Linked DNA regions of Homo sapiens: regions 1, 2 and 4 are each linked to region 3. Evidence: fine-mapped expression QTL. A gene starts in region 3. Each other region holds a variant in brackets. All regions are shown on one strand. Distances are between the middles of the regions.

Region 1 (5,203 bases), 63 kb after region 3:
TTTTTTTATTATTAATTATATGATTATTTCAATAGCTTTGGTGGTACAAGTGGTTTTTGGTTATGTGGATGAATCATATAGTGGTGGAGTCTGAAATGTTAGTGCACCTGTCAACTGAGTAATGTACATTGTACCCAATATGTAGTTTTTTATCCCTCAGCCACATCCCACCCTCCTCTGGTCCATTATCATACTATATGTTTTTGCATCCTCATAGCTTAGCTCCCACTTATAAGCGAGAACATGTGATATTTGATTTTTCATTCCTAAGTTACTTCACCTAGAATACTTACCTCCATTTCCATCCAAGTTGCTGCAGAAGACATTATTTTGTTCTTTTCTGTGGCTGAGTAGTAGTCCATGGTGTATATAGACCACATTTTCTTTATCCACTCATCAGTTGATGGGCACTTTGGTTTATTCCATTTCTTTGCAATTGTGAATTGTGCTGCAATAAACTTACACATGCAGGTATTGTTTTCGTATAATGACTGTTTTTCCTTTGGGTAGATACCCAGTAATGCAATTGCTGGATCGAATGGTAGATATACTTTTAATTTCTTCGAGAAATTGCCATACTGCAAATGTTGTACTAATTTATATTCCCACCAGCAATGTATAAGTGTTCCCTTTTCACCACATCCACACCAACATCTATTGTTTTTTGACTTTTTAATAACAGCCATTCTGGCTAGAATAAGGTGGTATTTCATTGTGGTTTTTATTTGTATCTCCCCGATGATTCGTGATATAGAGCATTTTAAAAAATAAGTTTGTTGGCCATTGTATATCTTTTTTTTTTTCGAGAAATATCTATTCATGTCATTTGCCCACATTTTAATGGGATTATTTGCTATTGTCTTGCTGACTGAATACCTTATAGATTCTAGATATTAGTCCTTTGTCAGATGCATAGTTTGTAAATATTTTCTCCCATTCTGTCTGTTTACTCTCATGATTTCTTTTTCTTTTTGTTGTTGTTGTGCAGAAGCTTTTTAGTTTAATTAGGTCCCATTTATTTTTGTTTTTATTGCATTTGCTTTTGGGGTCTTAGTCATAAATTCTTTGCTTAGGCCAATGTCCGGAAGAGTTTTTTTGTTTGTTTGTTTCTTTCTGAGAAAGAGTCTTTCTCTGTCGCCCAGGCTGGAGTTCAGTGGCACAATCTCAGCTCACTACAACCTCCGCCACCTGGGTTCAAGCGATTCTCCTGCCTCAGCCTCCTGAGTAGCTGGGACTACAGGCACGTGCCACCATGTCTGGCTAATTTTTGTATCTTTAGTAGAGATGGGGTTTCACCATGTTGATCAGGCTGGTCTCGAACTCTAGACCTTGTGATCTGCCTGCTTAGGCCTCCCAAAGTGCTGGGATTATAGGGTGAGCCACCGCGCCCAGCCCAGAAGAATTTTTACTAGGTTTTCTTCTAGAGTTTTTGTGGTATCAGGTCTTAGAGTTAAGTCTTTAATCCATCTTGAGTTGATTTTTATGTATGGTGAGAGATAAGGGATGCAGTTTCATTGTTTTGCATATAGCTATTCAGTTTTTCCAGCACCCTTTATTGAATAGAGTTTCCTTTCCCCAGTTTATGTTTTTGTATGCTCTGTCGAAGATCAGTTGGTTGTGAGTATTTGGCTTTATTTCTGGGTTCTTTATTCTGTTCCATTGCAATGTCTATACATTTACATTTATACAGGTACCATGCTGTTTTGGTAACTATAGCTTTGTAGTATAATTTGAAGTTGGGTAATGTGATGTCGGGTAATGTGATGCCTTCAGATTTATTCTTTTTGCTTAGGATTTCTTTGGCTATTTGGGCTCTTTTTTGGTTCCATATGAGTTTTAAGATTGTTTTTTCTAATTCTGTGAAAAATGATGTTGGTATTTTGATAGGAATTGCATTGAATCTGTCGATTGCTTTGGGCAGTATGGTCATTTTCACAATATTGATTCTTCCAGTCCATGAGCATGGGGTGTATTTTTATTTGTTCATGTCATCTACAATTCCTTTCAGCAGTGTTTTGTAAGTTTCCTTATAGAGATATTTTGAGTTCTTTTTTTTGTTCTCTTTCTTTTTTCTCTGCCTGTCCTTGAGTTCTTGATTTGATTGTCAGCTTGGTCATTGTTGCTGTATAGCAGTGCTACTGATCTGTGTACATCGATTTTGTATCCTGAGACTTTACTGAATTTATCAAATCTAGGAATCTTATGAAGGAGTCTTCAGGGTTTCTAGGTATTTGATTGTATAATTGGCAAACAGAGATAGTTTGACTTCCTCTTTTTTTATTTTGGATGCTCTTAATTTCTTTCCCTTTCCTGATTGCTCTGGCTAGGACTTCCAGTTTTGGTCTTTTAAACAAACATTAAAAGATAGCTAAACTAAGAGATGGGGAGTATATTCATCTATGACTTTTCCTCTGCTGCTCTGTCTCTTATGCCATATACTAATTTGTTAGCCAATGAATATCTAAGAACCTGGCTGCTCAGTGTTCAGTAAATAATAGCCTA[A/G]TTAAAATACCTTGTTGGAATATGGGACCTTTATCTCCAAAGCTGAATGTCTCATTTTTCTTACCATGCTTAGTTGTCATGTCTTTATGATTGTATTAGGGGATATTTTACTATTTCTGTTTCTGTTTGTGTTATATGTTGACATGTATTATGTCAATTAAGCCTAATAAAAGATCCTGTTAGAGACCTAAGGAAGTACAGTTATCACCATTTAAGATATAAGAAAACTAAGGTTCAAGGCGTGAAATTCCTAGCCTGAGGTCAGAGTTCTCTTAAGTGTTGTAGCCTCAGGGAGGGACCTCTCTAGCCTGCCAAATTGATTTGTTTGACATCACAGAACAATGCAGTGAAATATCAAATTTCAGTCCCTGTGTATCCTACAGTTATCTCATTTTTCTACCCAAACAGGTCCTTATCCATTGCCCAACATCAAATTGGACATATGCTCAAAAGGGTGAAGGAAATAGAAATGTATGAGAGAAATCTAACTGTGCCTAGATACTTTCTATCTAGGCACAGGGAAAAGGGACATAATTTTAAAATACATATTTATATATGAGTAGAGTACAACATATACTAGAGGCCAAGGCCCTTGTTCTCAAAGCACTTAGATTCTGATAAGGCAAAAACATTCTCGACTATCAAGTACAGAGTGACATATCAATTAATTACAGAGTGATGTGTCCACTGAAAATATTTTGAGGTATTGGCTTTCAGTGAATTATGCTAACTTTATCTCTTACACATATTTGGCTCAGGAGTAAAGAATTTGTAACATCAAATATGTTAACTAATAATCAAATAATCAGTCAGCTATCAGTAATCATAATGAAAATCATGTATTGTCATTATGGCATTTTCTATTTTAGGAAATGCAGCTCTTTCTTCACTACTATTGCCATATGTTTAAAGGAAAAGAATTACTCCTATGTGACCCAGTTCACACCTTGCCAAATCCTTTTACTCAGTATGTGAGCCAATTACAAAGGACTTGTTTTTACAAATGTGCTTGCCCATCAGTCAAAAGTACCACTGAAACCAGAAACATTTTCTTAAAATGTAATCTTCCAAACATGGCATTCTAGTAGCATAACCATATATTGTGATTTTTAAAAATACTCAACATTTCTTAGCCTATGGAAGAATCTCATTTTTCCTCAGGCCTATGGCAGTTCTCAATAATTTTATGAGATATAGTATTGACTATATCAAGTTGAAGAAAGGCCACAGATCTCCATGTAAGAATTTGTAAGTTATTGGAAAAGAAAAAAGAACAATACATGTAATGAACCATATTATAAGGAAAGTGTTTTCTGTATCAGTTCATTAGTTTTCAAAGTCCAGCAGCGTGAAATTAATATGATTTCTACCAGCAAATCATCTCTCCAATGTTTTTTCTTTTTTTTCCCTCTTTCCTAGACTGAAAAAGAAAAAACAAGCCAAACAAAATGCAGAGACAGCCTCAGCTGTAGCTACAAGGACTCATACTGGGAAGGAAGATAATAATACAGTAGTTTTAGAGCCAGACAAGTGCAACATTGCTGTGGAAGAGGAATATATGACTGATGAGAAAAAAAAGAGAAAAAGTAATCAGTTAAAGGAGATCAGGCGTACAGAACTAAAGAGATATTATAGTATTGGTGAGTATTCATGGCGTTACTGCAGTATTTTCATTTAAAAAATCTATAAGAATTTTTAAAAGACTATCATTTGTGATTGATCATAATAATGGTAACAGTTTATGGAGCAGCTGCTATGTGCCCCTGGCCCTTGCTTTACATACATAATCTTGTGTAAGGGGATCACACTAAAATAATGTCTCATTTAAATTTGTGTTCCCAGCATTTAGCACAGTGCCCAGAATGTATTGTGTACTACTAAACGTTTATCTAATGAAGAGTCACTTTCTCTTTATGAGAAATATTTTTCTTAATGTATGTAGACATATTCATAAATATGCTGATAGAAATGCCTGTACTTTTTGGCATTTGCTAGACAGTAGAAAATGGAGGAGACTTGGCCTAGCAAGTTTTTGTTTTTGTTTTGTTAAAAAAACAAAAACAAAAACAAACAAAAAAAAACACCTAGGAGTCTTTTTTTTGAGACAGAGTCTTGCTCTGTCCCCTAGGCTGGTGTGCAATGGCATGATCTCGGCTCACTGCAACCTCTGCCTCCCAGGTTCAAGCAATTCTCCTGCCCCAGCCTCCCAAGTAGCTGGGATTACAGGTGCCCACCACCATGCCCGGCTAATTTGTTGTACTTTTAGTAGAGACGGGGTTTCACCATGTTGAGCAGGCTGGTCTTGAATTCCTGACCTCAGACACTTGAGAATCTTAAAGGGAATCTTGAAATGAGTCCATAGTGTTATATAGTTTCTCAGAATAACCCGTGCATCTGAAACTACATTCGCAGAAGTGGCGTATCTAGCTTGACCTGAATCACCCATCTCACACCTACTGTTCTATCACATGCATACATGGATTTTGTTTCAAAGAGAATGCAAATAAATGAAATAAATAAGGGTACCAGGAATCAGAACTTGGCGTGGCATACAGGTTATGGCATACTTGAGATTGCTAGGAAAGGGAGAGAAAACTGAGAGCAGTGTCTGAGAACATACTGCAAATACGGTAAATGAAATGTGGTCTCATAGCAGAGAAATGACACTCGTTCTGGGCCACCCTCAACTTGGTCCTCATTA
Region 2 (5,203 bases), 41 kb after region 3:
GTCGAAATATGGAGGTCGTGTGGGCTACCATGCTAGGTTTGGAATATCTACTGCCTTTGACAAATAGAATGTTTTCAGCCTGGACTTGAACTTTTCGAGCTATAACAATGTCTCAAGGACCCTCAAGGCTGCTTATTTCTTGCTTGAAAAACTCTTGTTAGAGGGAAGTTGTTTTTAAATTTTTGGTTAAATTTTATTTCCTTTCAGCTTATTCTATTTATTCCTTGTTACTTCGAATCCATACAGAATAAATCAAATCCATCTTTCATATATTATCATTGCATGTGTTTAAAGACAACATCATGAACCTTTTCCAGGATGAGTATCGTACCTTTCCATCCCTGAACCTTTTCCAGGATGAGTATCATAAGTTTCTAAATCTCTCCACCTAAGATGGAGTTTTCAGATTCTTTGCCATCTTGATATGACCTGATTAATGCAAATATAAGAATATTAGGCCAGGCAAGGTGGCTTACACCTGTAATCCCAGCACTTTGGAAGGCTGAGGTGGAAGGATTGTTTGAGGCCAGAAGCTCAAGACCAGCCTGGGCAACATAGTGAGACCTTGTGTCTACAAAAAATTTTTTTAAATTACCAGGCATGGTGGTGAGTGCCTGTAGTCCCAGTTACTGGCAGGGGCCTAGGGGTTGGGGTACTGAGGTGGGAGGATTGCTTGAGCCTGAGAAGTCAAGGCTGCAGTGAGCTTTAATCATGGCACTGCACTCCAGATTGGGTGACAAAGTGAGGCCCTGTGTCTCTCTCTATATATTTTATATATATATATATATGTGTGTGTGTGTGTGTGTGTGTATGTGTGTGTGTGTGTGTGTGTATAGATATATATACTTATCCTTTACTTTTATTAATAAACACCACATTTCATTATTTTGTTGACAGAAATTATGCTCATAGTGAGGGGGGAAAAGTGTTTTTCCATCTGAATTGGAATTTTGTCTTGTTTGTTTTCTGTCTATTATTCTATTTTCCAGGAATTTTGAAGCCTGATTTTTAACATTGAACATATTTTCTGCCCTCCCTAGATTGCGTCAGATATGCAACTTGAATAGCATGTGTTATGTTCTTATCCAAGTAGTTGATTAAAAGGCTGAATTGGAAAGCTTTATGCATTATGGCATATTAGTACTGTCAGTACATGAAATAGTTATCGTTAAGTATTTCAGTTTGCTATAAATCAGTTTCCTCTAAGTTAACCGAATTCTCTAGTCCAGCTGTTTCCATCTTACCTTAAGAAAAGTAGTGACATTTTCAGGGGCCTTAGTGAAATCTTTCTATACTACCTCCTGTGACTGGCCCATCAATATGCCAAATCTAGCCCAACCAAAAAAGATAATTATGTTCATTTAGAGTCACTCATTTTAGTGTACCTATAGTGGTTCCTAGAAGTCAATAATTTATCTTCAGGTAATCACAAATGATTAATGAGCTATCAGTTTATTTTTCTGACAGTTGATATCAAGCTACTCGGTGTGTCATTTCCAAATTTTTTATTTCTTTTGAAAACCAGGTTTGTTTGTTTTTTTTTTTTCCTACTTCCAATTTTCTTTCTCAGTGATTCTTTTGAGATTACTGGTAATGGTACTGCAACTCAGAGGGTTGCTTTGACAGGACTAGAGACTTCATCCTGGATTTCACTTTCTTCTTAGCCATGGATATGTCATCCTTTTTAATTTTTTGCCTATTCTCTTTGCTAAAGCTAAAAATAGGATTGGACTAGACCTGTTTTCTCTCTCTTACAGCTTAACTTCACCCAGTGGGCCTATTGCTTCTTGCCTCTTCAGCCTCTCAACATCCCTATAATTTTCTCGTTAGTTTTCCTTTGCATTGTTTACAAACTTCTGCATATGCTGAGCTTTCACTTTCTATGCCTGTTCCTATAGACTTCTGTCATTTGCTTTTTGCTTTCGTTTGAGCTCTATTATGTGCCTTCTCGCCATCCCCTATATGCCTGCCCATTAGAAACTTGAGTTTATTGGGCCATATTTGTTTACTGAGATGCTTTCAGCATTGGTTCTTCCACAGACTCATTTGTGATGGAGTTGACAGAATTTGTTTCGGAAGAACATATTACAGACATGAGCCGCCACACTGGGCTTGTTTGCGTCAATTCTTTCACAGTGTTATCTGCTCTATACTTC[T/C]TCCGTATCTCCCTTTTGATTGACAGTTAAAATCTTCACCTAAAAATAAAAAAAAATAATTAATCCAAATCTACAAAATTTCTACCAATAATTTCAAAGGCACTAGGGAATCATTTCAGGTTTCTTCCATGACAGTCAATCTCTTGATCATGTGTCTGGACAATTTCCTCTTGAGTGATGGCTATAATAATTTTTAGGAGGCTCTCTGCCACTTTGACATTTTGTGCGCTAAACCTGCCTAACCCTACCCAGGTCAAATTTTGGTTGCTTTTATCCCCCTGCTAGGGAGCCCCCAAATACTTTACTCTCTTTTAACTACTTAAGGGATGAACAAAACAAGCAGTAAATTATTTTATTATTTGCCAGGCAAGAGGACACACACATGTTCATTGGTAATGCTACTTAGAGATTGAAGTTTGTACCCTGGATAGGGGAAATGAAGTTTGCAGCCTGGATAGAGGAAATGAGTCCATAAGGCCACAAATGATTGGTTTTAACTAGTCCCATTTGTCATGGGGCAGTGAAGAGCCTTCACTTAGGGCCCTTAAGGGCCTAGCATACCAAGGATGCTCAAAGATCACAGTTTTATATCAGCTTTGGCTGGTGGGCTGTTCAGAATTCACAGCCAGTTACAGTGAAACTCAGCACCAAGCTTAGCTCCTGGGGAAGTGCTGCTACAAAGTGGATGTTCTTTGGCAGGACACAGGAGGAACCGCTGGATCTCTCAGCCACCTTGTTATTTTCTGCAGCCTCGGCTGCTCCAGATTTCAGGTCTGTGGGACATCGCCACACTGTTGTGTCACAGCATGGCATGGTCTCCAGACCTCCTTTCTCCCCTGCCATGTGTTCTGCCCACCAAATCGTTTCAGTTTCTCTCTGGAACTTCAGAATAGTTTTCTTTCTTGCATATTATGTAAGTTATTTTTCAACTTCCAGAAATCATGCTTAATGAAACATATCTTCAAAATAAAACTTCTGCTCCAGTTTGTGTTGCCGCAGAGTGAAACTATTGGCACTAGAAATTTGTGAATTTGAAGTCATAAATTGTAAGTGATTTGCATAGTTTAACCTCATTAAAGAGAAAATGAGAAATTAAGAAAAAAGTGGAAACCAGGACAGATAAATTTGCTTATTATGAAGATCAAACATAAAACAGTTGAGTAGGCAGACAGCTAAAACTCTTGGAAATAATGGGGCTGGCCGGGCTTGGTGGCTCACACCTGTAATCCCAGGACTATGGGAGGCTGAGGTAGGTGCATTACTTGAAGTCAGGAGTTTGAGACCAGCCTGGCCTCATGGTGAAACCCTGTCTGTACTAAAAATACAAAAATTAGCGAGGTGTGACAGGCTCCTGTAATCCCAGCTACTCGGGAAGCTGAGGCAGGAGAATTGGGAGGCAGAAGTTGCAGTGAGCTGAGATCACACCACTGCACTCCAGTCTAGGCAACAGAGCAAGATTCTGTCAAAAGAAAAGGAAAGGAAAGGGAGGGGGGGAGGGGGAGGGACAGGGGGAGGGAATAAATGAGGCTGATGTCTTGTTTCAATCAGGGTGGTGGCAAGGGGTGCTTTGGGGGCTGTGGCTTCTCTCTCCATTCACCTGTGCCATTGCCATCAGCACGTTCCACAGGCCACCCCAAATAAACATGCAGTTCTAATAAAAGGAGTCAGGTTGCTTAGCTGGTGCAGCTTTAAGACATATCCCTGACCTCCTCTCACTCCCCCAAAACTCAGTTTTGCCCCTAACTTCTAACTGCAGAGAAATTATAAAGTTAACACTAGCTTAAGTAAGGCCCTTCTTCCCTTTGTCTCTTCCTTCCTTTTTGTTGATTCTACAGTGTTGTTTCCTCTGAGAAATAATAATAGAATTTAAAAAAATTGTCATGTTAAACTGCAAAGCTTTTATTATTTTTTTAAAATCGTAATGCTTGCAAAAACATTTGGTCGGTAGGATTATTAAGACGTGACAAAATGATCTTTAAAAATAAGATGTACTTTCATACACAGTGGAAGAGTATTAACAGAAATATGTGGGCAGCTTATTTTTGTTTTTGTTTTAATAAAAACAAATATTTGGTTTTAACCATAAAAAGTTCTCATGATACAATTATTTGTGTGTCTGAAATCATCACTAGAGAAAACTAAAGTGACTTTAAAATGTAAATAATACTTATTAAATACATGTGAACATAGTATAATTAATCCCTTGTAGGTAAAAGAAAATTCTTTAAAGTTTGATTAAAAAAACGGAAGATTTTTGTTCATCAGATAATCCCCATATGATCTAGATTCATTTATTTACTTAGTTGTTTATTGTTATAGACATTTAGGGATGGAAAATATCTTAAAAACAACCTAAGCTAACTTCTTGGTAGAGGTGAGCTACTGAGGTCTTAAGAGGTTGTTATTTAACCAGGGTCACCAGACTCTCAGCTGCTGCAAGCCACAGACAGAGGTTTTCTCTTAGCAGAGTTGTGCTTTCATCTCACTCTACTTTAGCAGACCAATGATATCTCAAGCTTGCGTGTTTCTTTTAAGACCTCACTGAAGTCTTGCTGACCTAAAAGGAAGAAGCTGAGGCAAAATTAATGCAGGTAGAGTTGATTTGAGCCAAACTTGAGGATTGTAGCCCAGGAGCATAGATTGAAGATGCCCTGAATATACACTCTGATTAGCAGCAGTTACAAGTTGATTTTTAAAGGCAAAAAAGAGATAGGAAGTGGGCTGATACAAAGTGATGTGCCAGGAATTCTTGTTGGCTTACAGAAATAGCATTGATTAGTGATTGGCTATGCATTAAGTTATAGTGTCTGGTGTGGCATTATTAGATTAATTTATAGCTGCTTGTGGCAATAGCAGGCTGGTTCTGGAGATGAATACATAGCTCCAGCGGGAAGTAAGATGTGATTGCAGTCTCATTTTAGTGTCTCTGCAGCCTGATAATTTAAAAGGATGTATATTTCCCAGATAAAAGTTCTTTTCTTTTCTCAGGCTAAAAGAGGTAGAACACTTATTCCAGAATCTTTAAAATTTCCTGAGTTCCCCAATAA
Region 3 (5,203 bases):
ACCTTTTTTTTTTTTTTGAGATGGAGTTTCGCTCTGTCACCAGGCTGGAGTGCAGTGGTGCAATCTCCGCTCGCTGCAACCTCTGCATCCCGGTTTCTAGTGAATCTCCTGCCTCAGCCTCCCAAGTAGCTGGGACTACAGGACCCACCACACCCAGCTAATTTTTTTTTTTTTTTTTGTATTTTTAGTAGAGATGCGGTTTCACCATGTTGGCCAGGATGGTCTCGATCTCTTGACCTCGTGATCCGCCCGCCTCGGCCTCCCAAAGTGCTGGGATTACAAGCGTGAGCCACTGCGCCTGGCCAGAAGACTGACGTTTTATAATTGATGGTCACAACTTTAAAAATTCATACTCAGTTATAGGTTTTTGTCTAATAAAAACATCACTGCTTAATTTATTTACAAAACATGGAGTCCATAGAGAGAAAAACAACAGGGGCCTCTTGATAGTAAAAGGATGAGAAACAGGGAAAACTTGTAAGTCAATGGACACTTCCTTCAGAAACTACATTCAAAACTTAAAAATTTTGTTAAAGAGTAAGCAACTGCCAAATTCTCCTAAGTGACTTCAACGTGTTACTTATACATCAGATATGTACATACATATTCCTATAATCAAGTAATTCTAAGTTTGGGAAAATATCATAAATAATAATAGTTATCTTTTGAAAATAAAGTGGGGCTCTAGATCAACCAGTGTCAGGAAGCAGCCAAGTCACACCCCACTGGGTGCTTCCTGGACAAGCGCAGTGCAGCTCCCACAGGGCCTCACACCCAACCTTCAATTTGCTTAAAAGAACTATCTCAAAAAATCTTAGCTATTTAGTCACAATTTGTCCTTGCCAGGGAACATGTTTTTCTTTTGCCTGATTTTCAATAACCTTAGATTGCAAAATCATAAAAGCACTCATCAAAGAACTGTGAGAGCAGCTCAGCTTCCCTGGAGATCTCAAACCATGTTCCTTTGATACAATGCAATCAGCTCTTTATACTTTAGGAACCTAATTTTCCCTTACTAAATGCTAAACAATTTACAAATAACACAATGGCTACAGAAAAAAAAAATCCAACATCTTTACATTCAAATCCCAAAGATATAAACCTGACGTCTAAATTAATACGTGCTTAGTGCAAAACTGGGCAATTATTCCACATTTGCAAGACAGTATAACATGACCACCTGCTGCTGAAATGCCAAAGCCACCACTGTTAACGCTTTGCTCCGCCTTCCAGAGAGGTTATTACAGCTTAAGCTGCGTCAACAACCCAGAGGAGGCTGCTATCTAGTTTATCTGTGTGGAAGGCCTGTAACACACTGTTAACAGAGTAGTTGCAGGCCCTTCCTTGGGATATTTTTCTGCGTATAAGAGTGAATGAACTCCACGGCCAGATCCTCCTAGTCATGTTGCAGTGCTGGTCATGGGACCGCAGAGGGAACAGCACCCAACTGGGGATGGGGAGCTCACAGGCACAGGCCCCGCAGCTGATGCAAACCTTCCCCCTCCAAGGTTCTCTCGAGTCTCTGCCAAGAGTCGGCTGGAGGGCCCAACTGCTATGTTCTTATTGCTGTAATGACTGCAATTTGGCAGCATCCAGGATGGTGTACCGGGAACGGGAGGGGGAAGGAGATGGTGGGCCCCTCTGTTAAACGCAACGCCAGAAGGGACACAGGATGAATTTATTGTGGCCATCGGTCCTGAGCTGGAAGGAAAGTCAAAGGGCTTTAAAGCTGGGGAAAAGCTCTAACTCCTGCTCTGCTGTCAAAGCCTTACTTCCCACGAAGAGTAGGGGCCAGGCGGGCCAACTGTAAGGGGGAAGCGGCCCGGGGTGAGGTAAGAGGACCCTCCTAGGTGCCGCTGCCAGGCGGCGGTTCGCTGGGGCAGCAAGGCGCCCGCACTCGGGAGGCGCCACAAAGGGCCGAGGCCTGCGGAGGCCGCACGCGCAGCTCTCCGGGGCGGAGCCGCCGGGATCGCGGCAGCGGAGGCTGCAGCAGCCGCGGGTAGCCGGGGTGCCCAGCCTCCCAGCTCGGAGGTCGCGGGGGGCGGGGAGGATGCCGCAACTGCAGTCCGAGCGGCAGAGCCCGGCGCGAGCTCCCAGGCCCCCGCAACCGCTGTGAGGCGCAGCGCGCGCCACTGGCCGGGAGGAGCTAGAGGCGGGCGTCTGCACAGCGTCGCGCCACCCGTGACTGCCCGCCTTCAGCCGGGCCCGGGACCCCGTAGCGGCCCATGCCCTGACGGGGGGCGCAGCTGCGGGGCTGGCGAGGCGTCGCGCGTGGGAAGAGGCCTAAGACACCCCGACTGCGGCGGCTGCGCACACCCGATCCGGACGCGGGGCCCCGCGGGCGCGCGCCTCGGAGCTCCCGCCTCCTCCTCTTGCTCCTCCTCGGCGTACGGTCCTCCCCTGACCCCTCCTTCCACCCGCCGAGAGGATGCGCTCCCCGGCGCCCAGCAGCAGAGGCCACCGCTCCCAGAAATGCATGCGACCGATCCCCTTCTCCCGGACCCCAGGAGCCGGCGCCCCCGCCCTGTAGGTAGGTGGTGAGGCGGGGCCCAGCCCTCGCCGCCGCCCGCCGCTGATGCTGCCGCCGAGAGGCCGCGAGCAGGGTCCAGGACCGGCCAAACTTGCCTCCCGCCGGGGGCTCGGTGGAGCGCTCGGAGGTGTGCTAATGGCGCTGGGCGTAGCCCCCTGTGAACCTGAAAACCTCTGCTTGAGCTCGGGAGGCCGAGCGGGGGCGAAGGAGAGATTGACCCTTCCCCGCCCACCCCTTGGGGGGCTCGTGGGGGTGCGCGCCAGTACGAGAGTGGGGAGGACAGGTTGGCATGGGGCTTATTTGGGGAGAAGACCGTTGGATTTTCAGCAGCTCAGGTGGAAATATGTCACTGTGTTTTTCCGGCTGGATTAGCAGATGCGTTCTTCCCATCTTTCTAGCCAAAACATGTAGACAGGCAAAGGGTTATTAGTGGCATGTAGAAGTCGCTGTGGATTTTTGTGTATTTCAGAGCTAGCTAGTTGGTATATAAAATCGATGGGGCAAACCCTTACCGTCAACACGTTAGGGCCAATTTAGAGAAGGTCCTTCTAGAAGTCAGATTATTCTGGAGATCGATGAGGCTGGGATATTGTTGTGCTGAGTATTTAGGAGCCTCTGCTTACGTGAAGGGATGTGTTTTAAGAGTGGCAACTTTGATACAGGTGTCGGGAGTTGAGATTCTGCTGGAAAGATGTACCGGGTCAGCCAGCAGAGGCAGCCTTGTGCCCAGCCTAACTTCCAACTCGATGTTATGCTCTGTATTTCTCAGAAACTGGTTATGTATTAATGCTTTTTTTCTCCTCTAGGTGTAAAGTTTATACATCAGAGCTTTTGGCAAGATTCCCTCTTCCCAGACTATCATTTTTTATTTTATATTCAGCAATAAGGCTTAAAGTTTTGAAAAATGCATCACTGTAAGCTCCAATTTTATAGTCACTTAGGTATAGAGATTTGGAGAAGTGACTCAGTATAAGCTCAAATAGGACAGAATCTTGAATCTGTTTTTTTTTAAATCCTGTAATCTTCTGCATCTTATGCAGAATAAGTACCCATTAGTTATTTGTTGAATGAATGAACTGTGTTTCAAGCTTTCATCTAAAAACCACAATTTAGAATCACAGAATTGTTCTGTAGCCGGTGAAATTTAATTGAATTTCAAAAATTGCCTCTTTGTATAAATAGGCAAACTCAGTTATTTTAACATTTATATTTCAATTCTGACATCTTTAGGACCATATGCTATCTTTCTGTAATATGTCATCAAGGTTATGAGGTAATTCTCCCCAACTCTTAAGTTCATTTCATGTCTAAGCTTGCAAAATTTCCAGTCTCACTGGTAATCATGCCAACTTCAACTGTGCTCTCAAACACAATTTAAAAAGTAAAAGTCGTGTTTTAAAGAAAATTGTAAGTTACGCCAGAGGAAACAATGATTTGGTTAATAAGTGATGTATTCACTTATTTTAGAGTTGAGTTTTTCAGGTTTGATCTAATTATCATGTCTTTTATCACAGGCAAAAGTAGAAATAAAACATGTAGAAGTGTCTGTGATTCTTAAATGATTCAAAATGTGTGATATAGATACACAATTTAAACTGTTTTCTCCTCGGTATAGAAACACATCAGTTTCCAAATTTGACAGCCAGGGGATTGTGAAATGAGGGTTTGCAAGATACAGTGTCTTCCTGCTTTAAAATGTTATATCATTTTGAAAAAAAAAAAGAAAAACAAGGTTAACTGCATCAAACTTTATTTGCTTTATTTTTACACTATGACATTTTCTGTTTTGATTTCATCTTTTTTCCATCACATGAATTTCATGAGTCAGTGTGAACTTCTTTCAGTCTCTGCTTAACAATATTATCTGGGCATGCTCCCAGGTTTTCTTTCTGACATTTTAATGCATCTTTACCATCTTCACTTCATATTACTCAAATGACTTATTTTTACACAATATGGTAGGCCATACTTTATTACTATTGCTTCTCCAACCTACTTATTTTCTTCCTAGATGGATAAGGAAATAAAACTTTCCTATAAAAGTTAATAAGACTGCAGGAACCAACAGTGGGAGGGAACTTATGAAAAAAATTAATTTGTTATGATTTATTAAAACAAAGCCAAAATTCCCTCCTGTAATAAAGATAATTACATTTTACACTTCTTAAATTTGTAACCCAGGGTATTGAGCAATTAATTTACCTGGCTCTTCCTTGCACACTTTAAGCTTTTCAAAAAAGCCCTCCCCTTTGGTTACAGTAAGCTCTCTTTACCTTGTTACTTATAAGCACTTATTTGTTCATTTTACAAGTAGGAGTTGAGCCTTTAACTGCTCAGTTTAACTGCTATTACTTTGGCTTTGGAATCACAGTCAAATAAAAGCTCTAATCTCAGATTTGAAGAGGTATTTTTCTCTTCTGTGTGTCCTACAACCAAATGCGCAGTGCCTCTGGGATTGGTTGACTCACTTTTGGGTCCTACCTCCTGATCCCCCAGCACTCCGCCCCCACAAGCACCACCAGAATGCAATCCAAGACCTGGATTTCCTCTCTTTATCTTCCTAAAGGCTGTATTTTAGAAACCTCTATTCCTTTCTTGCTAAATGCCATTTACTATTGTTTTTAAAATCCCAGCCCATAATTTTTTGTTTGTTTAAATTCAACAGGATCCACT
Region 4 (5,203 bases), 55 kb after region 3:
AATGTCCCACCCCAAGGCTTCTCTGAGAGAGAATTTGGTTTTGGCCATTTCTGGCCCCCACACTTTGGTTACCGGGGTCTTCTAAGACCTGCTGACCCACCACTGTTTTAACAGTACAAGGAAATCCTAGAAAAGGAAAATTGAATTGTTGTGGTTTCCCCTGATTGGCATTCTGTTTATCTGTCTTTATTAGAATGTGGTTGTTCTTTGAGGCTAGGGGAAATGCTGTTGTGTGTATGTGTACCCATCTGAAGGATATATTGCTAGTTATTGAACACAAAGCCAAAGAATCTCTTTTCCTAACTGTATTGGTTCTTTGAAGCCGGAGTATTTTCGTTTTAACTGATGAATTTCAGTTTTAGCAGTGGGAAGAATCTCATTATCACGATTAGAAAAAAGGAAAAAAAGAATGCATGTCTCCATGGGTTACACTAGAATCAGGAACATCCACAGGTTTTTCCAGTGATTACTCTTAAATCTTTTGTTTTTATTTGGCCAGAATTCCAAGAGAAAATTTTCTTCAAGTGAGTTGTTGTTTTAACTGTTTTTCTCCCTTTGCCTTTAAGTTTGACTTAATTTGGCATATAATGGCTCATAAGTGGGGATTTTCAGTGGAAATGGAAAACTATGAAATGACAAAATGAAATGGAGTTCAAAGAGTGATGTTCTTCTAGAAATAATAAGTGGCTTTGTATTGATGACTAAATTCATAGAGTTAAATACAATTAATATTTATGTAGAGTGAGAAAAAGGACATGAACATATATTAATACCTGGCATTTGTCACATACCTTCTTTTTTGTGTTAAATATGTTGTGCTTTATATGTTCTCTCATTTACTTGGATTCTTTGAAATCCCCAAGTAAGAATAACAGCAGCAGCACAACAAATTAGTAACTTTTGTTTATTAAGCTCTTCCTGGAAACCAGGCACAGGTTGTGTTTAATAGTAAAGTAAGCTTTCTCTGTACCATTTGCTTTAATCACCATTAAAAACCCATTGGAGGCTATTATTTTTATGTCAAGGACAACAAACCTGAGGCTTAGATTTGGTAACTCGCCAAAGGATGTGCATCCAAAGTACAAGACGATTCAAACACAAACGTTTCTGCCCAAAGACTGAGCTCGTTCCATTGTCAGAGGTGGCAGAAGTCAGAATTAGACGACCAGGAAAAAACAGCCTAGGCCCTGAAGGTCAGAACAATGCAATGACAAGGCTGCAGCCAGAACAGCCAAGAAAAGAACCAAGAGAAGGTCCCTGGAGGGAGGCAGACCAGCTCTATCTGATTTAAAAAAAAAGTGATGTGGGATTGCAGTCCAGCAATTTACTAAGCTAGCTGGACTCAGGAGAAAGAATGAACCACTAAACAAGAGGTAGCAAAATGTTGCCATAGCTGCAGATATTTAATTTTGTTGTTGTTTGTTAACCTTATAATTACAAAAGTAATATATGCTTACCGTACAAAAGATTCAACACCACCACATTACATACCTATAAAGTAAAAGTTCTTGGCTGGGCACGGTGGCTCATGCCTGTAATCCCAGCATTTTGGGAGGCTGATGTGGGCAGATCACGAGCTCAGGAAGTAGAGACCATCCTGGTCAACATGGTGAAACCCCATCTCTACTAAAAATACAAAAATTAGCTGGGCATGGTGGTGCTGCATGCCTGCAATCCCAGCTACTCAGCAGGAGAATCGTGTGAACCAGGGAGTCGGAGGTTGCAGTGAGCCAAGATCGCGCCACTGCCCTCCAGCCTGGTGACAGAGCAAGACTCTGTCTCAAAAAAACAAAAAAGTGCAAGTTCTTCTCTCCCCACTCATTGACCAACCGTTTTCTCATACATCCACCGAACCTGTATATATCCATATCTATGTGTATATTTGGTCTTGAGGGATTTTGCTTTTTTTGTTGTTGTTTTTTCCACAAAAATGGAGTCATGCTGCAATACTGTTTTACATCTTTTTTTCATGAAATAATGCTATAGCTACATATTTTATATTAGTACTCTATTTCCCTACAGAGGCGATTTTAAGGAGAAAGTTTGTATGAAAGAAGACTTTCATGGGTCTGTTCTCATGGCTGGTCAATTTTGATATTTTCTAGTTTTCTTCCTGGAGCTATTAGCCCCAAATTATAGAGCAGTGTTTTGTTGTTGTTCTTGGTTTGGTTTTGGTTGTTTTTTTGTTTGTTTTTATTTTTGCTTTTAATAGCCTTTGTAGAGGAATGGGCTTCTGACTGTCTTGGCTTCTGGACTTTTCCAGGGCTAGAAATTCTGCAGTGGAAGGAAAATGTAATCAAATGTGAGACTTAGAAAAAACATAGGGAAGTGCAAGACCCTTG[G/T]GATGGTTTAGTTTGGATATAAAAAAGAAAAAAAAATTTTTTTTTTTTTTTTTTAATCAAAACAACTTTAACACATTTCCTACTCTTCTCCGCCAAGGGCAAACTATTAGAGCCAGACAGGACCTTGAAAATCATGTTAGCCTCTTGCTTTTGTTTACTTAGAAGTCCCAGGGGGTTTATCATATTTCCAATGCAGGTTGCAGGGCTGATTACAGAGAAAGCCAAGCCCAGAACCCAAATCTGTGTTCCAGTCTTTCTGTGAGTGCACAATCCATTGAAGCCCACTAAATTTTCAGGCCCCCACATAGTTTGTAGAATTTTCAGAGTCCACTGGATTTTATTTTAAAGTTGACGTTTACATATATGCCATAGCCACATTTAGAGGGGCTTCGGGGAGGCCCTGTGGCAGTTGGCTGTAACCTAGGCTTGTGAATTCCCGCTCCACAACTAAACTGTGCCCTGTGACCTTGGGAAATGGCCCTAGTTTTTCTCAGCCTTCCTTTTCTTATCTGTAAAATAGAGATAAAACTCCCTACCTCATTGGGCTTTTGTGAGGATAGGCTAATATTTGTGAAGTACATAGCATGGTGCCTGGTTCCTTAGTCAACTTAGTAGTTCCTGTTAGAAGAAAGCTGTTTAAAGCTTGTCATAAGTTTTTGAAAAGTAAAATTCAGTTTAAAAAATTTGACAATATTTGTGTGTTAGATTATTATAGTAGGAGAGAGATTTCAAAGACTACTTAAAATATTTTTAATATGTAATTGTACATGGTATAAAATTCAAAATGTACAAATGAGAACATAATAAAAAGTATTTGTGTGTGTGTGTATGTACCCTTGTACACATATTTTCTGCATATACTTGTTACATTTTAAATACTGTATCTTTAGCCTTCTCTCTAATCTCTTGCAAATAGGACTAACTATAGCTCTAGATCAATATTGTCTAGTACTTTCTGTGATGCTGGAAGTATTCTGTATTGTGTGTTGTCCAATAGAGTAACCACTAGGACATGAGTCTAGAAATGTATTTCTTACAAGTGAATAATTTTAAGTTCAATTTTAACTAAATGTAGTAACTATCGGTGACTGGCTGGTGGCTACCACATTGAGCAATGCCATACAAGGTATTTACGTCTTTTTCAAAAGTGTGCATTTTTCAAAAACACATGGATCCCAAATTTTAAAATTAAGAACAGAGTCATATATAACTGTGAATTTAATACTAATTAAAGCAGTCTGTAGTTCAGTACATTTTAAATTATGTGTGGCTAATATGTAGAAAGCTGAAACTGGATCCCTTCCTTACACCTTATACAAAAATTAATTCAAGGTGGATTAAAGACTTAAATGTCAGACCTAAAACCATAAAAACCCTAGAAGAAAACCTAGGCAATGCCATTCAGGACAGAGGCATGGGCAAGGACTTCATGTCTAAAACACCAAAAGCAATGGCAACAAAAGCCAAAATTGACAAATGGGATCTAATTAAACTAAAGAGCTTCTGCACAGCAAAAGAAACTATCATCAGAGTGAACAGGAAACCTACAGAATGGGAGAAAAATTTTGCAATCTACCCATCTGACAAAGGGCTAATATCCAGAATCTACAAAGAACTCAAACAAATTTACAAGAAAAAAACAACCCCATCAAAAAGTGGGCAAAGGAATGAACAGACACTTCTCAAAAGAAGACATTTATGCAGCCAACAGACACATGAAAAAATGCTCATCATCACTGGTCATCAGAGAAATGCAAATCAAAATCACAATGAGATACCATCTTACGCCAGTTATAATGGCGATCATTAAAAAGTCAGGAAACAACCAATGCTGGAGAGGATGTGGAGAAATAGGAATGCTTTTACACTGTTGGTGGGAGTGTAAATTAGTTCAACCATTGTGGAAGTCAGTGTGGCAATTCCTCAAGGATCTAGAACTAGAAATACCATTTGACCCAGCCATCCCATTACTGGGTATATACCCCAAGGACTATAAATCATGCTGCTATGAAGACACATGCACATGTATGTTTATTGCGGCACTATTCACAATAACAAAGACTTGGAACCAACCCAAATGTCCATCAATGATAGACTGGATTAAGAAAATATGGCACGTATACACCATGGAATACCATGCAGCCATAAAAAAGGATGAGTTCATATCCTTTACAGGGACATGAATGAAGCTGGAAACCATCATTCTCAGCAAACTATCACAAGGACAGAAAACCAAACACCGAATGTTCTCACTCATAGGTGGGAATTGAACGATGAGAACACTTGGATACAGGGTAGGGAACATCACACACTGGAGCCTGTCGGGGGGTGGTGGTTGGGGGATGGATAGCATTAGGAGAAATACCTAATGTAAATGACGAGTTGATGGGTGCAGCAAACCAACATGGCACATGTATACTTATGTAACAAACCTGCATGTTGTGCACAAGTACCCTAGGACTTAAAGTATAATAAAAAATAAATAAATAATGTGTGGCTAATAAACTTTATTTTAAAATCAAATACCTTAAATAAGAAGATGGGAGTTCATTTTGGAGACCATGCTGCTAATCAGAGAAAGCTGTGAAATGGCTGTTTGTAGAAGAGCACATCTCAACCAAATCAGAACATTTAAATCAACTTAAAGTGGAAAAATTCAGAAGATTAAGAAGCAGCATATCTCAGAACATGGGCTCATTTATCCATTAATTTATTCAAGAAATATTTACTGAGTACCTAATGTGTGCCATGTAAGAAAGGAACTTGCCCAAGACCCTGGCTTTGCTTACTGCCAGTGCCCCAAACTCATTTCCTTTTGTAAAAGAAAAAGCTTCAGAAGAAAACCCGTTTTCATTCAGCTA

Which allele goes with the higher level. Positions count from the first base shown, and alleles are read on the strand shown. Sizes are in standard deviations (SD) of each study's normalised expression. Not every link is listed here.
In carriers of allele T in region 4, the expression in naive CD4 T cells of the gene that starts at base 2,423 in region 3 tends to be higher than with G alone (large effect, 1.1 SD a copy in Schmiedel 2018).

Evidence for each region. PIP is the estimated chance that this variant, and not a neighbour inherited with it, causes the effect.
Region 1: its variant is the best candidate, but not a certain one, in a credible set for the expression of NCOA7 in whole blood (TOPMed, PIP 0.66).
Region 2: its variant is the best candidate, but not a certain one, in a credible set for the expression of NCOA7 in T cells (TOPMed, PIP 0.69).
Region 4: its variant is the best candidate, but not a certain one, in a credible set for the expression of NCOA7 in naive CD4 T cells (Schmiedel 2018, PIP 0.66).

What each region holds. Positions count from the first base shown.
Region 1 is chr6:125,851,099-125,856,301 of GRCh38, forward strand. It overlaps NCOA7 (nuclear receptor coactivator 7), which reads left to right. Exons shown (of 16, transcript NM_181782.5): 3 at 3,922-4,142. Among named protein-coding and RNA genes, the nearest start is that of NCOA7-AS1, 35 kb to the left of the region's middle. The variant A/G (reference allele first, on the strand shown) is at 2,503.
Region 2 is chr6:125,829,951-125,835,153 of GRCh38, forward strand. All of the region lies in intron 2 of NCOA7 (nuclear receptor coactivator 7), which reads left to right. Among named protein-coding and RNA genes, the nearest start is that of NCOA7-AS1, 14 kb to the left of the region's middle. The variant T/C (reference allele first, on the strand shown) is at 2,157.
Region 3 is chr6:125,788,538-125,793,740 of GRCh38, forward strand. NCOA7 (nuclear receptor coactivator 7) reads left to right here and starts at 2,423. Exons shown (of 16, transcript NM_181782.5): 1 at 2,423-2,530. RefSeq lists silencers at 1,156-1,255, 1,846-2,685 and enhancers at 1,709-2,209, 2,210-2,710, 2,906-3,005.
Region 4 is chr6:125,843,984-125,849,186 of GRCh38, forward strand. The region is part of intron 2 of NCOA7 (nuclear receptor coactivator 7); the gene reads left to right. Among named protein-coding and RNA genes, the nearest start is that of NCOA7-AS1, 28 kb to the left of the region's middle. The variant G/T (reference allele first, on the strand shown) is at 2,343.